Linked DNA regions of Homo sapiens: all the other regions are linked to region 2. Evidence: fine-mapped expression QTL. A gene starts in region 2. Each other region holds a variant in brackets. All regions are shown on one strand. Distances are from middle to middle. Region 1 has its middle 20 kb from the start of LITAF. Region 2 holds the start of LITAF (lipopolysaccharide induced TNF factor). Region 3 has its middle 37 kb from the start of LITAF.

Region 1 (7,540 bases), 20 kb before region 2:
CCCTGGGACAGGTTTCTGAGGGGCCATTGTGTGCGGAGGAGCTGCTCACACACTTGCTTCTTTATGGGGTCCCCCCACCACCCAGTCCTCCTGGGCTGGATTATTTTGCAGGGTGAGTCCCAGCTTCTCTGTGCTTCCCTGAGGCCCCCCAAAGCCATCAGGAGCAGTGGGGACTAGGGTGGGGAGGATTGAAGGCTGCAGAGATTGGTGGCCATAGGGAATCCTTTGCAAATCATTGGGGTCATTTGGTGCCTTGAAACTGTAAATGACAGGCGGGGACCTCTGGGCCTGGAGAGAGAAGGTGGGGTGTGATTTCAGCATCCAGGCCTTGGACGACAGTGAAAATTTGTTTCCATCACTGGCCAGGAAAGCCTGGTCTTTTCCGTTTGGATTTCAAGGAATTGCCCCATTCCTGCAGCAGACATTCTGGAGGCTTCTGGAGTGTGAGGGAGAAGTGGGCAGGAAGGAGGCATGCCAGGGACAAATGTTTACGGTCCCTTGAACAGCAGGCATCTCTCAACCGTAGCAGATGGGGGCCTCTGAGGCTCTGGGAGGTGAAGTAACTTGCTCACGGTCACGCAGCCGGGAAGTGGCACAGCCAGTCCTGCAGCCTGAATCCTTTGCTCCCTTTATCCCTTTTTCTTTTTTCCAAGAGTGTTTTGGATACGTAATTTACATACCGGACAATTCACCCATTTAAAGCATACCATTCAGGCCGGGCACGGTGGCTCACGCCTGTAATTCCAGCGCTTTGGGAGGCCGAGACGGGTGGATCACTTGAGGTCAGGAGTTCAAGACCAGCCTGGCCAACATGGTGAAACCTCATCTCTACTAAAAATACAAAAAAATTAGCTGAGTGTGGTGGCAGGCGCCTGTAACCCCAGCTACTCAGGAGGCTGAGGCGGGAGAATCGCTTGAACTCAGGAGGTGGAGGTTGCAGTGAGCTGAGATCTCGCCACTGCACTCCAGCCTGGGCGACAGAGTGAGTGAGACTCCGTATTAAAAAAAAAAAAAAAAGTCTACTATTCAAAGGCTTTTAGTTTATAGAATTGTGCAACTGTCACCACTGTCAGTTTCAGAACATTTTTCTACAGCTTCAAAAGAAACCTCATCCCCTTTAGCCATCGCTGTCTAATTTCCTTGTTCCCCCAGCCCTAAAACCATGAATCCGCTTTCTGTCTCTGTGAATTTGCCTGTTCTGGACATTTCACATCAATGGAACTGTATACTCGGTGCGTTTTTTTTTGTTTGTTTGTTTTGTTTTTTTTGTGTGTGTGTGAGACAGAGTCTCACTCTGTCACCCAGGCTGGAGTGCAGCTCACTACAACCTCTGCCTCCTGAGTTCAAGAGATTCTCATGCCTCGGCCTCCCGAGTAGCTGAGACTAGAGACATGCGGCACCATGCCCAGCTAATTTTTGTATTTTTAGTAGAGACAGGGTTTCACCATGTTGGCCAGGCTGGTCTCGAACTCCTGATCTCAGATGATCCACCTGCCTCGGCCTCCCAAAGTGCTGGGATTATAGGCATGAGCCACTGCGCCTGGCCCCCTGTGGCATTTCACACCTGACTTCTCTCACTCAGTGTACTGTTTCCAAGGTTCATCCACGATGCAGCCCGTATCAGTGCTTTATTCTTTTCCATGGCTGAATAATGCTCCGTTGTATGGATAGACCGGATTTTGTTCATCCACTTGTCTGTCGACGGACATTTGGGGTGTTTCCACCATTTGTGTACAGTTTCCTATGGATTTTTAGGTTTTCAATTCTTGTGGGAGTTCCCAACTCTTAAGCAAGCTGCTCAAATTCCTGCCTACGGGCTTTTGCTCATGCTGGGATTTCCCTACCTGGGAACTCCCCTCCCCTTTCCCCACACCCGGTAGAATCCAACTTGTTCCCCATGATCCAGCTACGTCCCTTTCCTCACTGCTCCCCGTTCTTCTCACCATAACGAGGGACAGGCAGTCTTTCTGCACTCTATCCTTTATCCTGGGCTGTGCTTGCGGTGTGATCTTGGGCCACTCGCTCAGCTTCTCTGAACCCCAGTGGGGTTTATCTGTGACGCAAGGATCTAATTCTGATCCCATGGGGGTGCTAGGAGGATCGAGATGGCAAGAGCTCTGTGTCCTGGAAGCCTGGAAAGGGATGATGTACTGGGGCAGGCATTAGTTTATTTCTTCAGCCAGCTGTTTCTGCTAAGTGCCAGCTTCATGCCTGAGGGGGTTTACTGTTGTAAAACCATAATGATCCTGCCTTCAGGGAGCTGGGACAGGGGTTCTTAACTGGGAGGGAATTTGGTCCTAGGAGACAAATCTGGAGATGTCATCTGGAGACATCTTTGGATGCCATGATGTGGGGAGGAGTGCTACTGGTTTCTAGAAAGAGGTCAGGGATGTTGCCAAACCTTCCATGATGCACAGGCAAGCGCCCATAACAATGAATGACCTGGCCCCAAATACTAATAGTGCCAAGGTTGATGAACCCTGGTCTGGTGATGTTATGGTTGTTCATTCGTTTTTCATGTGTGCCTGTATTTATTAAATTTTTTTTTGCATTCACAACCCTTGCCTTTTTCCAAGATGGATTCGAGGTAACTTACAGAGATACCAACAAAACAACAGGATTTTTTTAATGAGGACGTTGAGGTAGAAAACAATAAGAAGGAAGGAACTTTTTTTTTTTTTCCCGAATGATACCCATATTAAAGCACACTACTTTCAGAAGTGGGACATACATTTGGCTCTGAGCTTCCTAGTGGCCAGAGCAAAAAGAGAACCAATTAATTTCAAGATTCTCACTGACCCAAAATTGAAAATAAATTAAGAGCTTAAGGGAAGTCCAGCCTTCTTGGGTGTGAAGGGCTTTTCTCCTACAGGCCCTTATACAGGGGCCAAGGCAATGTGCTGGAGGAGACAGCACTGTTCTCGACACAGCTCTGCAGGGAACATGATAGTGAG[T/A]ATCACATTGCATCCTCTGATGCAGGCCTGTGATGCAAGGCTGAGGCCAGCTTGGCAAGGCAGCTATACATGGGGCACCTGCCCTGAGAGTGGGGGTTTTACTTTCCCAACTTTGGAACAGAAAACGTGGTCCACACTGTAGGCAGTTCAGAATAGCAGTGGAAGCTGGGGCTCTGGAGCCAAACTGCCTGGGGTGAGGATGTGGATTTACTCCCAAATGGTGGTGTGACCTTGGGCCATTCCTGAAAGCTCTCTGAACTCAGTTTCCTCATCCATAATATAGGACAGGAATAGCACTTCGCTCGTAAGGTTGTTGGAAGGATACAGTGAAGTAGGCCGGGCGCAGTGGCTCACGCTTGTAATCCCAGCACTCTGACCAGCTGAGGCAGGTGGATCACCTGAGGTCAGGAGTTCGAAACCACTCTGGTCAACATGGCAAAACCCCACCTCTACTAAAAATACACAAAAAAATTAGCTGGGCATGGTGGTGGGGGCCTGTAGTCCCAGCTACTCGGGAGGCTGAGGCAGGAAATTCGATTGAACCCGGGAGGCAGAGGTTGCAGTGAGCCGAGATCGTGCCACTGCACTCCAGCCTGGGCATGTTGTAGTTTTGTGGCTGCAGGCATACCTCAGAGATACTATGGTTTTGGTTCCAGACCACCACAATAAAGCAAAAATTGCAAGAAAGCAAGTCACAGAAATGTTTTGGTTTTCCAGTGCATATAAAATTAATATCAGCAGTAAGCCTGTTTCACTTTCTTATCATTCATGTGCGTACTTTTAATTTCCTTCAGGAACTTTTCTGGCCAGGCGAGGTGGCTCACATCTATAATCCCAGCACTTTGGGAGGCCGAGGCAGGTGGATCAGTTGCGATCAGGAGTTCGAGACCAGCCTGGGCAACATGGCAAAACCTCGTCTCTACAAAAAATACAAAAATTAACTGGGCATGGTGGTGCGTGCCTGTAGTCCCAGCTACTCGGGAGGCTGAGGTGGGCAGATGGCTTGAATCTGGGAGGTGGAGGTTGAAGTGAGCCGAGATCATGCCACTGCACTCCAGCCTGGGTGATACAGCCAGACCTTATCTCAAAAAATTAAAAAATAAAAATTAAAAAAAATCCAGGGGCAGAGGGAACCATGTGGGACGGATAGCATCAGACAGACCAGATGGTGAGTAGGGTGTAGAGGTCAGTGCCATCAGCCTATCATGCCTGTTCTGTGTCTGATAGCAATAGCCCACAATAAGTTTAACGAAAAAGGATCCCTCAACTAAATCAATGATCACATATCCTGTGTGTGCAACACTTTGAAGGAAGAATGGGGGCTCCCAGAAGATCAGGCTGTGCGCAGGCCGTGGGAGAGGTTGGTCTTGATCCTAAAGAGGCAGCTATTGATAAGTTTCCGTGGGAACAGTGGAACCTACCTCCTGGTGCGGTTGTGAGAGTGACATGTGTAGTGTGGGAAGCTCTCGGGGCTCTCACGGTAACTCTCTTGCTTCTCTTTCTCTTAGAGACAGGGTCTCACTCTGTTGCCCAGGCTAGAGTGCAGTGGTGCAATCATAGCTCACTGCAGCTTCGAACTCCTGGCCTCCAGCGATCCTCCTGCCTTGGCCTCCGTGCCCGGCTGGCTGCTGCTTTACTTTTTCTTGCTTCCTCCCCTCTTCTCACTCCTTGTCCCATCTCAATTCTTTTTCTTTTCATTTCTCTTTTTCCCTCCCTTCTTTCTCCTTTTCTTCCCTTCCTTCCTTGCGGCCCCTGCCTAGGAGTCTCCCTCCTGTGCGGCTCTGGGCTGTAAAGAGAGACACGGGGCTGGGAAGGGGTCCCCCACACTGTGAAGGGAGCCCAGGGCAGTGCTAGCTGTGCTCCTTTCCCTCTTCCCAGTCCTCCGGGAGGTGCACAGGATCCCGCCTGGGAGGAATCCTGGGCCTCGTGGGGGTTTCTGAAGACATAGCCAGACCTGCGTGGCATCCCCCCATTGAATACTAGGGGCCACATTCCCCACGGGGACACAGGCACTTGTCACAGCCCCACTGGTGAAGTCCACGGTGCGTAATTCAGCTCATCCTCCATCCAGAGCTGGCTGGGGGGATGCTGAGAGCTTGGGCTCCCTGTTTGCACAGTGGAGAGAGAGAGAGAGAGAGGAAAGGACACATTCCTGTTCCTGGGAGCCCTGAGGGCCTGCACACGGGTGAGGGACCCATTCAAGTGCCCCACGTCCAGCAGTGGTCCTGGCCGATTCCTGGAGTAGGCAAGGAAGTTCCGTTCTTTCCCGCATTGCTCCAACTTCCCGACACAGGAGAACAGATGTTTCACATCCAAAGATGACCGAGATGGCAGTGGCTTCATTACACTGAGCAGGCAGTTCCTTGAACAGGCGTGGGTGGGTCCCAGCCTCTTCAGGAAGCAGTTTGACGCAGCGTTTCAGGGGCCTGGAAATGTCTATACTTTTCTCGTCAGTAATCACACTTCTGGGAATTTGCCCAAAGGAAATAACCCTAAAAAAAAAAAAAGAAAAGAAAAGCCATGTGCCCAGCAATATCTATTGCAGTGACATTTTATAATAGGGAACCATCCAGGTGACACAACTGTGGCCACCACCTAGTAGATTCTTTTTTTTTTTTTTTTTTTTTTAAGAGAGACAGAGTCTTGCTGTGTTGCCCAGGCTGGTCTCGAACTCCTGGGCTCAAGCAATCCTCCTGCCTTGGCCTCCCAAAGTGCTGGGATTACAAGCGTGAGCCATCACACCTGGCCGAGAGATTCTTGATGATGGCATTTGTGCTCCTGGATCCAGCCATGCCTGAAGTCCTCACCATGGACTTTCCAACTATATGAGCAAATAAATTCCCTTTGCTATCTAAACAATATATTTATGATACAAAACTGTGCAATTAGTTGGGTCGTAATGAGGATTAAATGAACTAATGATATATGAAATACTTGCTTCACAGGGGCTCATGAGAGGTCAGCTCTCAGGAATTTCTTTCCCTTCAGTGAATGTAGTTCCAAGTTAAAATCCACCAAGCATATTCCACATTTTAGAGCAGGCATGAATGGGTTTGGTTGATTTAGAACAATAAGCACACAGAACTGAAATTTCACATCACCACCTACCCCTCCAGTGTCTCACTATGTTGCCTAAGCTGGTCTCAAACTCCTGGGCTCAAGCAATCCTCCTGCCTCAGCCTCCCAAAGTGCTGGAGTTACAGGCATGAGTCACCACGCCCAGCCTCTAGTGGAGTCTCGCTCTGTTGCCCAGGCTGGAGTGCAGTGGCGTGATCTTGGCTCACTGAAAGCTCCGCCTCCCAGGTTCATGCCATTCTCCTGCCTCAGCCTCCTGAGTAGCTGGGACTACAGGCGCCCGCCACCACGCCTGGGTAATTTTTTTTTGTATTTTTAGTAGAGATGGGGTTTCACTGTGTTAGCCAGGATGGTCTCGATCTCCCGACCTTGTGATCCGCCCGCCTCAGCCTCCCAAAGTGCTGGGATTACAGGCGTGAGCCCCTGCGCCCGGCCTCTAGTGGATTCTTAAATGTGCATTTATAAGAAGGAGTTCTGAGAGCTCTTTGTCAGCTAAGCTGGAAACACAATTGCATGCCTGCTGAGGTGGCCGGGTTGGGATGGGGGCTGCGGATTTTCCGAACCATTTCTGATACTGCCGCATTGCTCTGTCTGCTAGGAAACCTTGCCAGGCAGCTGTGTCCCCCAGGGCGTTTCCAGCCATTCCCAGGCTAAAACTGGAGCGCCTGTTCCATTTTGGAAAATGAAGACCGACATCTCAAGGCGTGTTTCCTTTTTGGATGTTCCCCTGGATTTCTGGAGGGGAAGAGAAGGGCGCGTGGAAGACAGCCAGGGAGGCCCTTGAAACCCCTCGGGAGGCAGAGCCCCTGGGGCAGGGATTTGGTCTTTTTCACCTCAAAAGCCTGCTGACAGCTCAAACAGCACCGCCCCCATCCTGGGGATGGAGGCAGGGAAGTTTATTTTTTCTAAAAGATTGTTAAAGGTCTTTATTTTATTGCAAAAGCAATACACGCTGATTGTTTAAAAAGAAACACACAAATAGTACAGAATTGTATAATATAAAGCTCCTGCCTGCAACCCCCTCCTCCTCTTCAGAGGGAGGCACCCTTTACTGTTTGTGTTCTTCCTTTTATTTTTAAATGTGTTCTATTTTATTTTCTAGATTGCCCAGGCTGGAATGCAGTGGTGTGATCACAGCTCGCTGCAGCCTCGGACTTCTGGGTTCAAGGGACCCTCTCACCTCAGCCTCCCGAGTAGCTGGGACTACAGGCATGGGCAACCATAATCTGCTAATTTTTTGTTATTTTTTTGTAGAGATGGGGTCTCGCTGGGTTGCCCAGGCTGGTCTGGGACTCCTGGCCTCGAGCAATCCTCCCACCTCGGCCTCTCAAAGCTCTGAGATTATAGGCGTGAGTCAGTCACTGAATCCCACCTGTGTCCTTTCTTTTAGATAGTTTCCATTTCAAGGCTTTCCAATTTTTTTTTTTTTTTTTTTTTGCAACAAGCCACAGTGAACAATAGATCTTACAACCTGGTACACACGGGCACTCGTATAGAAATAAAACACAAGT
Region 2 (7,540 bases):
TTACTTAATTCAATACTTTATCACAAAGTATTGAATATCTCATGTAATTTACTGAATACTATACTAAAAGTTAAAAACAGAATGGTTGTAAGGGTACTTGAAGTACGGTTTCTTTTGAATGTGTATCACCATCATAAAGTCAAAAAATCATAATTGAACCATCATTAAGTCTGGTACCATCTATATATGTATATATCTCCTCTCTCTTTCTTTGAAAGATTTCTGACTGATATACCACTTTAACTATATTAAATCTTCTGGTCCATGAATGTCTTTCCATTTATTTAGTTTTCTTTAATTTCTTTCAGCAATGTTTTGTAGTTTTCAGTGTATAGGTCTTGTTTGAACTTCCTTAGTTAAGCGTTTTCCTAAGTATTACATTCTCTCTCTCTCTTTTTTTTTTTTTTAGAGATGGGGTCTCGCTATGTTGCCCAGGCTAGATTCAAACTCTCATGCTCAAGGGGATCCTTCTGCCTCAGCCTCTTGAGTAGCTGGGACTACAGGTGTGTGCCACCATACCCAGCTTCTATCCTTTTGAGGCTATTGTAAATGGAGCCATTTTCTTAATTTCATTTTTGGATTGCTCATTGCTAGTATATAGAAATGCAACTGGCTGGGTGTGGTGCCTCACACCTGTAATCCCAGCACTTTGGGAGGCCCAGGCAGGTGGATGGCTTGAGCCCAGGAGTTTGAGACCAGTCTGGGCAACATAGCAAAGCCCTATCTCTACAAAAAATTACAAAAAAAAACTAGCTGGGCACAGTGGTACATGCCTGTAGTCCCAGCTACTGAGGAGGCTGAGGTGGGAGGATCGCCTGAGCTCAGGAGGTCAAGGCTGCAGTGAGCTGTGATCGAGCCACTGTACTGCAGCCTGGGTGACAGAGACCCTGTCTCGAAAAAAAAAAAAAAAAAAAAGCAACTGATTTTTGTATGTTAATCTTAAATCCCACAACTTTGCTGAACTGGTTTATTAGCTCTAATAGGTATTTAGTACATTCTTTAGGGTTCTTACATATAGGATCATATCACCTGTGAATAGAGATAGCTTCACTTTATCCTTTTCAATCTGGATGCTTTTATTTTTCTTGCCTAATGGCAATGGCCAGAACCTCCAGGACAATGTTGGACAGAGGTGGCCAGAGTGGGCACTTTGGCTTGTTCCTGTTCTTAGGGGTAAAACTTCCAGTCTTTTACCATTAAGTGTGTCATTAGCTCTGGGATTTTCATAGAAGCCCTAAGGTTGAGGAAGTTCCCTTCTATTTCTAGTTTATTATTATTTTTTTAATCATGAAAGCATTATTGGATTTCTTCAAATGCTTTTTCCGTCTATTGAGATGATCACGTGGCCCAGTTTACTTTTACCCCCTGGTTGGAAGCCTTGGGTTGGAAATTCAATCTCTGTGGTTTTTTGGGGATCAAAGAAAAGAGTTACAGTCTTATAGCTCTCCCCATAAATAATTGCAAGCTCACAGCCGTGGTAAGTGTTTAGGATGGATAAAAACACAAAGCTGGCTCCTGTTGCTGCTCAGCAGTTGGGGAAAGAAAAACAAATGAAGATGTGGTAGTATTCAGTAAAGGACAGAAGAAAATTCAGGCTTACTACTGCTTTTTACAGGAAGGAAGGGAGGAAGCGAGGAAGGGAGGAAAGGAGGAAGGGAGGAAGGAAGGAAGGAAGGAAGGAGAAAAGGTTGGGAGGGAGGGAGAGACAGAAAGGAAGGAAGGAAGAAAAGCATTCATACAGGGATGTTTCTTGAACGTTATCTCTGAGAGATTTTCCCTAGGTGTTATGTCTCCCTAGCAATGGTCTGTGATATTCTGTCTTAATGTCAGTATAATAATTGGTACCTTTGCAAGCCTTGGTTGCATCCTGAGAATGGAGGAATGGCAGAGGTTGGGTGTAATCCAATTTCCTGTTCTTCTCTTCTCCCTCCCTCCCTCCCTTCCTTCTTTCCTTCTCTTTCTTTTCCCTTTCTTTCTTTCTCTTTCTTTCTTCTTTTTCTTTCTTTTTTTTTTCTTTCTCTTTTCCCTCTTTCCCTCTTTCTTTCTTTGTTGCTTGCTTGCTACAGTGCAGTGGCTCGATTATAGCTCACTACAGCCTCAACCTCCGGAGGTCAAGGAATCCTCCCACCTCAGCCTCCTGAGTAGCTGGCACATGCCACCACTCCACCGCTTTATTATTATTCTTTTAATTAAAAAAATTTTTATAGAGATGGAGTCTCACTATGTTGTCCAGCCTGGCCTTGAACTCCTGGGCTCAAGAGATCCTCTGGCCATGGCCTCCCAAAGTCCTGAGACTATAGGCAAGAGCCACTGCACCCGCCCCCTTCATATTTTAAAAGCAGTAAAATGTTGCCCACACTAATAACATCTACATGGGAACCTCCTATGCTTGGGAGAACTTTGAAATCCCTTCCAACTTGGTAACTCGTCCACGGCTGAGGGTGGCCCGTCAGTGGACATGGCGCAAGGTGGCAAGAACTTGGGGCTGGGGACACTTTGCTGAGGGACCCGGGACAAGCCACACTCCCTATCTGGGCCTCACTATCTTTAGGACCTCGGGTAAAGGCATGGGATTTGGGCACCGGAGGGTTCTAAGATCCAGGTCTTTGCCAGCATGGGGCTCGGAAGCTCCCTGTCCAAATGGCGTTTGTTTGTGGATGGCCACATCATGGTTCTGCCCATCTCCTGACTCTGTGTACTCTGAAAGCCAGGCATGCTTCTTAATTCCCTCTAATGATTTCCCAGAGAGCCTGCTGGATCCAGGCTGCTGCTGTTATCACTGCAGCCGGCCGATGGGGCTCCAAGCAGACGGGCAGATGGCACCCATTTAGGGGCGGATGTGAAATGGGGCTACTGATTTCCAGAGCTTGCTTTCAGTGATGGCTGAGAAAGGCCTACCTGGCGGCACGGACCACCCTGGGGGCACAAAGCGGACAGGCAGCTGATAAGCCTTACCTAATACCTATCCTGTGCTAAAAACTTTACCATCTTCCCAGTTCACTCCCAGTCGGTCTTAGGAGACAGGACCGCTATTGTGCCCATTTTGCAGACAGGAAGCCGAGCTCAGAGAGGATGGGTAACATGCCCGAAGGCACAGAGAGTGTCTTGGTCTGTCCGGACGCGTCTGTAGAGTTACAGGAAGAGAAGGGCCGCCCTCCAGAGGGCCGGGAGCGCCCCAGCGCGGGTCCGGGGTCGAGGTTGGTGGTCCCGCCGCCTGGAAGTGGTGGAGCGGCGCGGGGAGGGGGGAAAGTGGGGAGAGCCGCGAGCGGCAAATCAGGAGGGAGGGCCAGGCTGTCGGGGGCGGACGGGTGGGGCTGGCACCGAGAGGCAGGGGCAGGATAGGAGAGTGGGGGAGACACCAGGTCCGCGCCAGGCGTCTCGGGGGTAAGCCTGGGAAGCTCTGGGGTGGCGAGCGAGCCGGGTGTGGGATGGAGCCTGGGGGCGATCAGAGTGAGGCGGGGAACCGGCGGTGGTCTCGCCTGGGGCCCAGGTGCGGGCCGCGGGGGCGGGAGAAGCCGGAAGCCCAAGCCGGCCGCGCTCCGCCCCGGCGGGTCCAGCCCCCGCCCCCGTCCCCGCCGCCCGGCCCTTTTCTCGGGGCGCCCGAGAGGCCAGCTCAGACCTCCCGGCTCGACAGGCGGCGCGGGCGGCGGTGAGTGCGGCGCGGGGACGCCGGGGCGCGGGGACCAGCGGGAGACAGCGGGGGGCCGGTGGCGCCAGCACCTGCTGGGGGCCCCGGGCACTGAGCCCTTGGCTGGGGCCTCCTGGGATGCCAGGGGGCGCGGGTCGGGTCGCGGGCATCGAGGCGCGGCGGAGGGCGTGGGGGCCCGGCCGGGGCGGGGTCCGGCCTCCCAGCGCTGGTCCCGGCCGCGTCTCCGGTTGGGTTCAGCTCCTGCGTCCCAGAGTGGCCCGATCGCGCGTGGCGGGGTCGTCCGGCCCCCACCCGAACGAGCGCCCTTCGCGGCCCGCCGCGTCCCCCTCCCCGGAGAGGACGGCCCCTGGGCTTTTTAGAAAAAGGCGCGATTCTCTCTAGTGACTCAGGTTGAGATTTCCAGAAATATCCCCCGGGGGTTCAGAAACAAAACCAAAACAAACAAAAAAACCCCAACGAATTCCCAAATGCTATTTGCCAAACATTTGACTTCTAGGGGCGCGGGTACCCGCGTTTCTCTCCCTGCCCCCGCGACTTCGCGCAAGATCCGGGAAGGACACCCGAGGCCCCTGGGAGACCCTGGGGAGGTGAAAATCAGAGAGCGAAGCGGGCCGTGGCCCCTAGGCCTGACCCCTCCCCGCGGGGTAAGGCGGGCACCCCGCGAGCGCAGGGGTCCTCTTACTGCTGATGGCACCCAGCTCTGGGCCCAGACGCCGCTCACCGTCCACCGCCGGTGCTGGGTAGGTGCTGGTGGGACCAGCTGGTGACTGGTGGCAGAAGTGGATCTCGCCCCTCCCTGCCAAGCTAGGCAAATACCCTCCCCGCTCTGGTTTGCAGGTCACTGTGGATAGGTGGTCAGTTGGTGGTGTGCCCGAAGCTCTTCGGGGTCAGGGAGAGGAGGTGATAGGGGAAAGGTGTATGTTCTGGAAGGGCCAGTCATGCTTCAGGGACCAGGCTAGTTGGACCTTCACTGGTTTTCTACTTCCCGACAGTGGAGCTGATGTCACTGGCTGTTGGACTGAGCAGTGGTCACTGGGAAATCTACAGTTTGTGGAAGCCACGGGGTCTTCCAAGCTCCTACCAGTCTTCCCAAAGAGGATGCCTCCCTCCCCTTGGCCTGGTGCACTGGTGCTGGTTCAAAGACTGTCTGAAGCCCAGCTTGGGGTCCTCTTTAGGAAAGCCATGATTTGCCTTAATGTGTGCTTGGCTGCTTCATCTGCCCTCTCACCCCCTGCCTTCTCAGAGTGACTCTTTTTAGGACTTCCTATTTAGGACTAACCCAGATGCCTACAGAGAGAAGTGCAGGCTGGTATCTGGAATTCCACCAGTGTTTTGGTTTTATCAGTTGGAGCAGGATCTAGATGGCGTGTGACTTGCTTTACCTGGCATAGAGTAACACCCATATTGCACTTGGCTTTCTTCTCCACCAGCCCTTGCTCTGGGAACTAAATGTGCACCAAACTCTCTAAGAAACATTTAATTGTAATCTACCATGAGGGAGGCCCATCTCCCTCTTTCCTGTTACTTTAAGGCATGAATAATTGATGCATTTATTCACATTTGAGAAAGTATCTTGTAATGTTTTCACAGATTAAGTGACTGGGTGATTGATCTAAGACGTAGGATCAATTTCTTTCTTTTTTTTTTTTTTTTTTGAGACAGAGTCTCACTGTCGCCTAGGCTGGAGTGCAGTGGTGCGATCTCGGCTCACTGCAACCTCTAACCCTCCCCACCCCACCTCAACCCCCTGCCTGAGTTCAAGCAATTCTAGTGTCTCAACCTCCCAAGTAGCGGGGATTACAGTTGGGTGCCACCATGCTTAGGTAATTTTTGCATTTTTAGTAGAGACAGAGTTTTGCCATGTTGGCCAGGCTGTTTTCGAACTTCTGACCTCTAGTGATCCACCTGCCTTGGCCTCCCAAAATGCTGGGATTACAGGTGTGAACTACCTCACCCGGCCCATTTCTTAAGTCTCTAAAATAGTAGATTGAAGTGTAATTCACTGTCTTTGGGGAATACATTTCCCTTTGTTACTTCCGTTCCTTTTATGGGCGGGCTGTTGAGAAATAAAGCGCTACCCTTGCCGTGTAAAGGATGCAGAAGAATGGCTCCTGGTCCTGAGGGGTTTACGCAATGGGTAGAAAGTAGAAACACACACCGGCGAAAAAGCTGGTGCTTGCTAATGCCCTTGTAACTCCAGAAAGGGCTTGAGAACAGTGGAAAGGAGGCAGCTAAGTTAGAGAAAGTTTCATGGAAAAACTGAGGCCTGAGCACATGTGGCAGAAGGAACATGAGGACATAGTTCAGACAAACAGGAGGGTCTCAGTAGAGCTGTGGAAGAGGTACAGACAAGCCCAGGTGGTTGAAGACAGTAAATGGAAAATCCACTGAGAGGAAGGAGCTGGAAGGCGTTTCCAGCCCAAGTTAATTTTCAAGAAAATAAACAGTGCATATTTTGCTGACATTACCCATCCTCACTGCTCAGAGGTGTATAATAGCACTTTGAGAATGGGCTGGTGCCGTTTTGTGACTTAAACTTCTCCCACTGAATAGGAATTTCCCCAGAGCTACAGTGAGGGTGGAAAAAAGAGGATCTGCAAGAGGAAGTCCTGTATTCTTGGCACTGTGACTTGTCCTCTATTTGTTTTCGCTTTTACAGCAGTGAAAATAGCCCCGTGGGTGAGGCGGTCTATCAGGTAAATAGACTTCCTTAGTTCTGTGTTTCTTTAGCACACATATTTTTGACGTCTCCCGGGTCTGTTTGGCCACCCATGGTCTGTTCTGAATTTGATTGATGTTTACTTGCCTAAGAATTGTTATTTGAGGTCAAGTGGCATTTTCCAGGGTCCTCATAATTTCATCTTGTTGTTTGAGCCTGTATTGATTGACACTCTGGACACAGGTGACAACAGCTTTGTAGCTAATGAAGTTGTCCCTTGGCTGCAGGTTATTTCAGTAGAAGAATTGTGTAATTTCATAGAGCTTAAGGCATGGACACAAGAAAGGAACCATTCTGGAGGGTGTCTATGTGATGGTAATTCTCTGCTCACCTCGCAGTAGGTAGGAGTTTATATACCAGGATCCAAAGCTGGAGGCTTCAGAGAAAATAATGTTGGAGAATTTAAGCTATTTAGCTCATGGAGCCTTAGATTTAATTGACAGTGTGCCTCAGGTAAGTTTAAGAGCTTAATGATGTCTTGCCTTAAACTTGAATCCATGAGGTTATTCCTAGATGATGCACTGATAGTTTGAAATTTTTTATTAAAAAATATTAAAGTGTGGAAGATAAAGAAGAAAGGCATAATCTTATAGAACGAAACAACTACCACTGGCTGTCCTTATCGGGCGGCTTCTGTCTTTTGTCTTTGTGCCTGTTTTCTATGAAATTGTCATCAGCGTTCATACAATTTTGTATCCTAATGCAGTCTCAGTCTTATTAATGATCTCCTTGCACTGTTTGATGAAAAACTGTGATTCACGTGGAAACTAGGGATGTGGTTTCACCAGGAGTCCAGAGGAAAACTGCCCACTCTGATTGTGGGGGAGCAGCCCAACTCCCCGATGGAAGCATTTTCCATTCCACAAATCACTGTGATTTGTCATTACGCCATGCTTGAACCTGGCTTTAAGATTGTGGTAACTTTATCTTTGACTTGTGGGACATACCGCCCTGCAGAAACAGCCTGAACTCAGAAGATGGAATTGGCACACATTTCTCTGAAATATTTCACTCTGAGCTTCTGTACTTTTACTGAGGTCTACTGAAACTGGAATTTGTTTGGGATCAAATAACCAAAGGCCAATTTCTCGCTTCCTTTCCCAAAGAGCTGGAGGTCCGGGTTTCCCCTTTTGTCTACCTTCCTGCTTAACCATTTATGGCTTAAGACGCAC
Region 3 (7,540 bases), 38 kb before region 2:
TGTTCTGCAGGACTGTGCTTGTCTTGGGCCAATGGAGAATTACAGGCCTTGTTTTTTTTTTTTTTTTTTTTTTTTGACAGAGTCTCACTCTGTCGCTCAGGCTGGAGTGCAGTGACGCAATCTCACTGCAACCTCCGCCTCCTGGGTTCAAATGATTTTCCTGCCTCGGCCTCCCGAGTAGCTGGGACTACAGATGTGTGGTACCACGCCCGGCTAATTTTTGTATTTTTATTTATTTTTTGATATTGAGTCTTGCTCTGTTACCCAGGCTGGAGCACAGTGGCACAATCTCGGCTCACTGCAACCTCTGCCTCCCGGATGCAAGCCATTCTCCTGCGTCAGCCTCCAGAGTAGCTGGGGCTACAGGCGTGCACCACCACACCTGGCTAATTTTTGTATTTTTAGTAGAGATGGGGTTTTGCCATGTCGGCCAGGCTGGTCTCGAACTGCTGACCTCAGGTGATCTGCCCACCTCGGCCTTCCAAAATGCTGGGATTACAGGCGTGAGCCGCCACTCCCAGGCCTTGTATTTTTTTAAGTCTAATACATTAGTCAGGATGAATAGCAGAATGCTGCAAAAACCAGAATCCCACTGGAACTGGTTTATGCCATTGCAGAATGTATTGTGTCACTGGGAAGTGGGGAGGGCAAGAGCTTCAGGCCTGGCTGGATCCAGAAGCTCAGACCATGCTGTCAGGGATCTGTCTCCAACTCCAAGCCTGGCTGTTCTCTGTGTTGGCTTCATTCTCCAGTGGGCTTGCTCTACCTGCTGGCAAAGATGGTGCTGGGCAGCTCCGGGTTTTCATCTCACCAGCCTTGTAAAGAATTCGTCTTATTCAAGGAGCTCCAGCAAGGGTCTTGGGGTTGATTGTCATTGGCTTGGCTTGGGTCACATGCCCATTACTGGAGCAATCACTGAGGCTCAGGAGATGCTGGGTAGCCACTGGCCAGGCTTGGTCATGTGCATGACACAGCCCCTGGGGCTAGGAAGGAGGGACGCGTCTGCAGCAAAGGTAAGAGAGGCCGTCCACACCCGGGTTCCTAGGGGGATGGGATCAGACTGGAAGAAGCTTGTTTAGCCAGGCATGGTGGTGCGTGCCTGTAGTCTCAGCCACTTGGGAGGCTGCGGTGGGAGGATCACCTGAGCCCGGGAGGTAGAGGCTGCAGTGAGCCAAGATCGTGCCACTGCACTCCATCCTGAGCGACAGAGACTCCATTTCAAAAAAAAACAAAAAAAAGAAGAAATAAATTTTCACCAGTAGCACATTAAATAAAAATATAGTGGACCTAGTAGAGCTTGAAATGTTTTAAAAGGCCGGGCAAGGTGGCTCACGCCTGTAATCCTAGCACTTTGGGAGGCCAAGGTGGGCGGATCACCTGAGGGTGGGAGTTCGAGACCAGCCTGGCCAACATGGTAAAACCCCGTCTCTACTAAAAAAAAATTACAGGCTGGGCGCGGTGGCTCACGCCTGTAATCCCAGCACTTTGGGAGGCCGAGGCCAGCAGATCATGAGGTCAGGAGTTGGAGACCAGCCTGGCCAATATGGTGAAATTGGTCTCTACAAATACAAAAATTAACCAGGCATGGTGATGCCTGCCTGTAGTCCCAGCTAGTCAGGAGGCTGAGGCAGAAGAATCCCTTGAACCCAGGAGGCAGAGGTTGCAGTGAGCTGAGATTGCACCACTGCACTCCAGCCTGGGCAACAGAGCAAGACTGTCTTAAAAAAAAATTACAAAAATTAGCAGAGCATGGTGGTATGAGCCTGTAGTCCCAGCTGCTTGGGAGGCTGAGGCAGGAGAATTGCCTGAACCTGGGAGGCAGAGGTTGCAGTGAGCTGAGATTGTACCACTGCACTCCAGCAAGACTCTGACTCACTGTATAAAAAGAAGTTTTTTTTTTTGTTCGTTTTGTTTTTTTAAAGTAAAGTAGTGGGATCTTTCTCACAAACATAGGGGAACTAATTCATACCATTTATTGGAACAAGTCCTAAATTCTGGAACTTTCATCAATCAGCCCAGTCTCTGGAACTCCTGAGAAATTTACTAAGCGCATGGGATCTGGAATTGACTCCCAGGTTCAAATCCTGGTTCTGCCACTGTTCAGCTGTGTGGCCTTAGGCAGGTCACCCAACCTCTCTGTGCTTCCATTTCCTCATGGGCACTGGGGTCATGAGGTTTTCTGCCTCGTAGGACCATTGTGAGGATCAGATGAGGCTCCAAGAGCTTAGGGGGACTTGTCTGTGTCTCAGGGCTGGAGTTAGAACTAGCCTGGCTGACTCCAAGTTCTGGGCTCTTTCTGTCTCCAGCGCGGGCACACAGCAGGGACTCACTGACTGTAAAATGAATGAATAAATGAAAGATTAAAAGGGAAGGTTGATCTCTTTCTGCTCTGATTTCTGTCACTGCATTCCTTCAGCACACAACCTAGGGGAACTCAGGGTTTCTTAAGAAGCCTGTCTTAGACTTGGTTCCCCCAGAGGCTGATGCTGAGACAGAAATTTGGGTGCAAGTAATTTATCTGGAGCCAGGCACAGTGGCTCACACCTGTAATCTCAGCACTTTGGGAGGCGGAGATGGGCAGATTGCTTGAGCCCAGGAGTTGGAGACCAGCCTAGGCAACATGGCGAAACCCTGTCTCCACTAAAAATGCGTAAATGAGCCTGGCATGGTGGTACGTGCCTGTAGTCCCAGCTACTCAGGAGGCTGATGTGGGAGGATTGCTTAAGCCTAGGAGGCAGAGGCTGCAGTGAGCCGAGATCGCACTACTGCATTCCAGCCTGGGTGACAGAGCGAGACCCTGTCTCAAAAAAAAAAAAAAAGGTTTTTGGGAGGTGATCTCGGGAGACACCACCCACCATCACACCGGACCACAGTGACCTTCAGAGAGTCACGGCCACTGCTTTGTCTCCACTCTCCAAATTTCACTCATGTTCCTCTTTTGGTCATCTCTAACCAGAACCACATGGGGAGGAAATTCTGGGAAATTGAGTTCTCAGCTTCAATGAGTTGGCACAGCACAGTTCACCCAGCAGTTTGTCTCACCTTCCTGGGTCCTCCAGTCCAGAGCTGGTTGGTTGGGGCACCTTGGGTCTCCTTCACGTGACCTCTCACCCTCCTGGGGGCTGTTTGCCTTCTTATGGGGTAGTCTTATCGGGCAGTCTCAGGCAGCACGCCAGGAGGGTCAGAGTGGAAACTAAGCCTCTTAAGTCTTAGCCTCAAAATTTGTAGAGTCACTTCTACCATATTCTATTGGTCAAAGCAAGTCTCGAGGCCACCCAGATTTGAGGGGTAAGGAAATAGACTCTACCTCTTGACAGGAAGAGTTGCAAAATACTGCGACCATGTTTTTCATTTTCAGTCGATCACACTTCCCTTCCTGAAGATGTTTAACTGCAGTCTGTTGGAAATTTATCATGATAAATCTGTAAACATAGGGTGATAGTGAATATAAATGGAGACCCTGTAGAGATGTGCAGTGCACAACCTGTGCAACTGTCACGGCAGCCTTGCTGTGCAAGATGTCATAGAACTCACCTATTCTTCTCACATGCCCCACTGTGGTAGGCATTTGTTATTTTTGAATGTCAGCATCTAGGGCTCCTTCTGAGGATAGTAACTACCTATTTCC[A/G]TTTCTATTCTAGTGAGGCTGACAGTCTCAGACTCCAGGGAGGGGCTTGTTATCATGAATTCTATTGCTGTAACCATAGAGATTGACCAGAGGATGGGCACGTGACCCACACCGGACCAGTGAGATTCAACCGTGGGAGTTTAGCTGGAACTATTGGAAAATATTCTCTTTCCACCAAAAATGTTTAGTTGGTTGGGGATAAGGCTGGAACTGCTGGGGGCCCTCTTTACCCCTCTGAGGGAAAGGCCTACCTGATAATGAATGATACAATCACAGAGGAGAGCAGAGGCAAGAGACGGAGAGAGAGAAATTATTTATTTATTTATTTATTTTTGGTAGAAATGGGGTCTTACTATGTTGCCCAGGCTGGTCTTGATCTCCTGAGCTTAAGTGATCCTCCTGCCTTGGCCTCCCAAAGTACTGGGATTACAAGTGTGAGCCATCACATCTGGCCAAGAGAGTGATTCTTCTTTTAAAAAAATTTTTTTTGAGATGGAGTTTTGCTCTTGTCACCCAGGCTGGAGTGCAATGGCACGATCTTGGCTCATTGCAACCTCTGCCTCCCGGGCTCAAGAGATTCTCCTGCCTCAGCCTCCCAAGTAGCTGGGATTACAGGCGCCTGCCACCATGCCCAGGTAATTTTTGTATTTTTAGTAGAGACGGGGTTTCACCGTGTTGGCCAGGCTGGTCTCGAACTCCTGACCTCAGGTAATCTGCCCACCTCGACCTTCCAAAGTCCTGGGATTACAGGGGTGAGCCACCATACTTGGCCAAGAGAGAGATCCTTTTTTTTTTTTGAGACAAAGTTTCGCTCTGTCACCCAGGCTAGAGTGCAAGGTTGTGATCTCAGCTCACCACAACCTCTGCCTCCTGGGTTCAAGCGATTCTCCTGCCTTAGCCTCCTGAGTAGCTGAGACTACAGTCATGCGCCACCTTGCCTGGCTAATTTTTGTATCTTTAGTAGAGATGGGGTTTCACCATGCTGGCCGGGCTGGTTTCGAACTCCTGACCTCGTAATCTGTCCGCCTCGGCCTCCCAAAGTGCTGGGGTTACAGGTGTGAGCCACCACGCCCAGCCTGAGAGATTCTTGATGATGGCATTTGTGCTCCTGGATTCAGCCATGCCTGAAGTCCTTACCACAGACTTTCCAACTATATGAGCAAATAAATTCCCTTTGCTATCTAAAAAATATATTCGGCCGGGCGCGGTGGCTCATGCCTGTAATCCCAGCACTTTGGGAGGCTGAGGCAGGTGGATCACAAGGTCAGGAGATCGAGACCATCCTGGCTAACACAGTGAAACCCGTCTCTACTAAAAATACAAAAATTAGCCGGGCGTGGTGGTGGGCGCCTGTAGTCCCAGCTACTCAGTTGACTGAGGCAAAAGAATGACATGAACCCAGGAGGCGGAGCTTGCAGTGAGCCGAGATCACGCCACTGCACCAGCCTGGGCGACAGAGCGAGACTCTGTTTCAAAAAAAAAATTATATATATATATATATATATATATTCATTATATGAAACTATACAACTAATTGGGTCATGATGACGATTAAATGAACTAATGATATACGAAATACCTGTTTCACAGAGGCCCATGAAAGGTCTGTTCTCAGAAATTTCTTTCCCTTCAGTGAATGTAGCTCCAACTTAACATCCACTAAGCATATTCCACAGTTTAGAGCAGGCATGGGTGGGTTTAGGTGGTTCAGAACAATAAACACACAGAACTGAAATTTCACATCACCACCTACCCCTCCAGTATCCTTCACGACACCTTGTATTCTTAATTTACATTCTGAAAAGACAGCAGAAAAGCAATGGCTTTAAATAACCCTGTTAAACGGTGCAAAAGCAATCTCGAGAGACACCGTTTTTGTTTTCTCTGCAAGAGGAAAGAAGGGGGTTGTGTAGGGAGGTGGAAATCTGCACAGACAGCCTCCTCCATCTGCACAGAATTAAAATGAAGTTCACAAGTGTGCGGTCTGCAAGTGGCTCTCCCGTGATTGCTGCCTCTTCCCGGGGGCTCTCCAGCCATCCGGGGTTTGTTTTTCCTGGGCCTGAGCTCAGATGTCAGGCAGGCAGAGGGGTCTTGGGATATCTCCCCACCCAGGGAGCAGGGGGAGGCCGCAGGCGGCTTGGGGTCTGTGTGTTTGGGAAAGCGTTCAGGCTGTTTACTCTGGGTCTCTTGACAGCCCGAGGGTGGCCGTGCCAGGCGGTCCAGATGCTTCCAGCTGGGGTCTCATGAGCAAGCCATGCCGCCTGGCTTATGGTGGCACCTCCTCTGAGCTGTCCCCACCAGGCTGCCAGGGCGGGTCCCCCAAACACACTCTCTAACCACATCCCCACTGCCTCCACCCTCATCAGCCACCGACAGCTCTGAACTGGGAAGGCCAAGGGCTGGAGCGGGCCTGCAGACGTGTTTTGTTTCATTTTGTTTTGCATTGTTTAATTTGAGCTGGCAATGAACCCTCAGAAGGTTTCACGAGAAACTTTGGATCTTGGTTTCTTTTGAAAAAAATGGGAAGGTCTTGCCTTCCCACCCAGAAGAAATGGGCTGCAGCAACGTAGGAGCTGGTTTCTTATCTTAGTTTGCATTGCCCCGGAGCTCTGAGAGCAGGATCTTAGGATCTGGGTGCCAGTGGTTTACTAGGGAGGGGATCTCAGGAAGCACAAGCAGTTGGGAAGAGAGTCGGGGCAGGGAAAGAATCAACACACACTACAAGGTGTCAGGGAGCCGGCCACTCTTGTGGGCACCTGGGGCTGCATCCTGCCGGGGAATTCAGGGGAGCTGTGTAGAACGTGGGTTGTGCTTCCTGAGGGGCAAGGGGGCTGGGATGTTCCCTTCTGACTCCTGTCTATCCTTGATGGAGGCCTGCTTCTGAGGGGGGTTAATACCAGTCTGTTCTGCACATAGGCCAAGAAGAAAACTTCAAGTAGAAAGTCATGGGTGGGCCAGGAGCGGTGGCTCATGCCTGTAATCCCAGCACTTTGGGAGGCTGAGGCAGAAGGATGGCTAGAACCCAGGAGTTAAAGACCAGCCTGGGCTACATAGCAAGACCCCATCTCTGCAAAACATATAAAAATTGGCTGGGGCTGGGTGCAGTGGCTCATGCCTATAATCCCAGCACTTTGGGAGGCCGAGGTGGGCAGATCACCTGAGGTCGGGAGTTCGAGACCAGCCTGACCAACATGGAGAAATCCTGTCCCTACTAAAAATACAAAATTAGTTGGGCGTGGTGGCACATGCCTATAATCCCAGCTACTCTGGAGGCTAAGGCAGGAGAATCACTTGAACCTGGGAGGCGGAGGTTGCGGTGAGCCGAGATCGCGCACTGCCATTGCACTCCAGGCTGGGCAACAAGAGCGAAACTCCATCTCAAAAAAAAAAAAAATTAACTGGGTGTGGTGGAGTGCGCCTGTAGTCCCAGCTACTCAGGAGACTGAGGTGGCAGGATCACCTGAGCCCAGAAAGTTGAGGCTGCAGTAAGCCATGATGGCACCACTGCACTCCAGCCTGGGCAACAGAGCGAGACCATCTCAAAATAGAAAGTCACAAATGGCGAGCCCAGTGTGCAGTGTTGACATGTCCTGGAGCAGCAGCTGCTGAGGGAGATGTGGGCAGGGCCATGACAGTGCCCGCTGCACCTGTTACATGGGGCCTTGCCCTTCAGTTTGTCACAGTCCCCACCACTCCCTATTGTCTGTCTCCCTGACCACAGGCTGAGAATAAGTTCCTAATATCATCATACTTGTGCTGCTGATTCTTTCACAGAATAGAAATGACCTATTTTTTCCATATCACCTTCAATAGTGGGAAAGTGGGCTGGCCACAGTGGCTCACGTCTGTAATCCCAGTGCTTTGGGAGGCTGTTTTAGGCATTCTTGCATTGCTGTAAAAACATACCTGTGA

What was found.
Region 1: its variant is fine-mapped to the expression of LITAF in skeletal muscle (GTEx, PIP above 0.99).
Region 3: its variant is fine-mapped to the expression of LITAF in T cells (TOPMed, PIP 0.93).

Annotation. Positions count from the first base shown.
Region 1 is chr16:11,602,687-11,610,226 of GRCh38, reverse strand. It overlaps a transcript of LITAF not described here. Among named protein-coding and RNA genes, the nearest start is that of LITAF, 20 kb to the right of the region's middle. RefSeq lists enhancers at 976-1,025, 4,453-4,952, 6,402-6,994. The variant T/A (reference allele first, on the strand shown) is at 2,955.
Region 2 is chr16:11,582,995-11,590,534 of GRCh38, reverse strand. It overlaps LITAF (lipopolysaccharide induced TNF factor), which reads left to right and starts at 3,616. Exons shown (of 4, transcript NM_001136472.2): 1 at 3,616-3,649. RefSeq lists silencers at 3,263-3,742, 3,773-3,852 and an enhancer at 4,753-4,862.
Region 3 is chr16:11,620,545-11,628,084 of GRCh38, reverse strand. It overlaps a transcript of LITAF not described here. Among named protein-coding and RNA genes, the nearest start is that of LITAF, 37 kb to the right of the region's middle. RefSeq lists enhancers at 467-1,001, 5,580-5,869, 5,318-6,086. The variant A/G (reference allele first, on the strand shown) is at 3,629.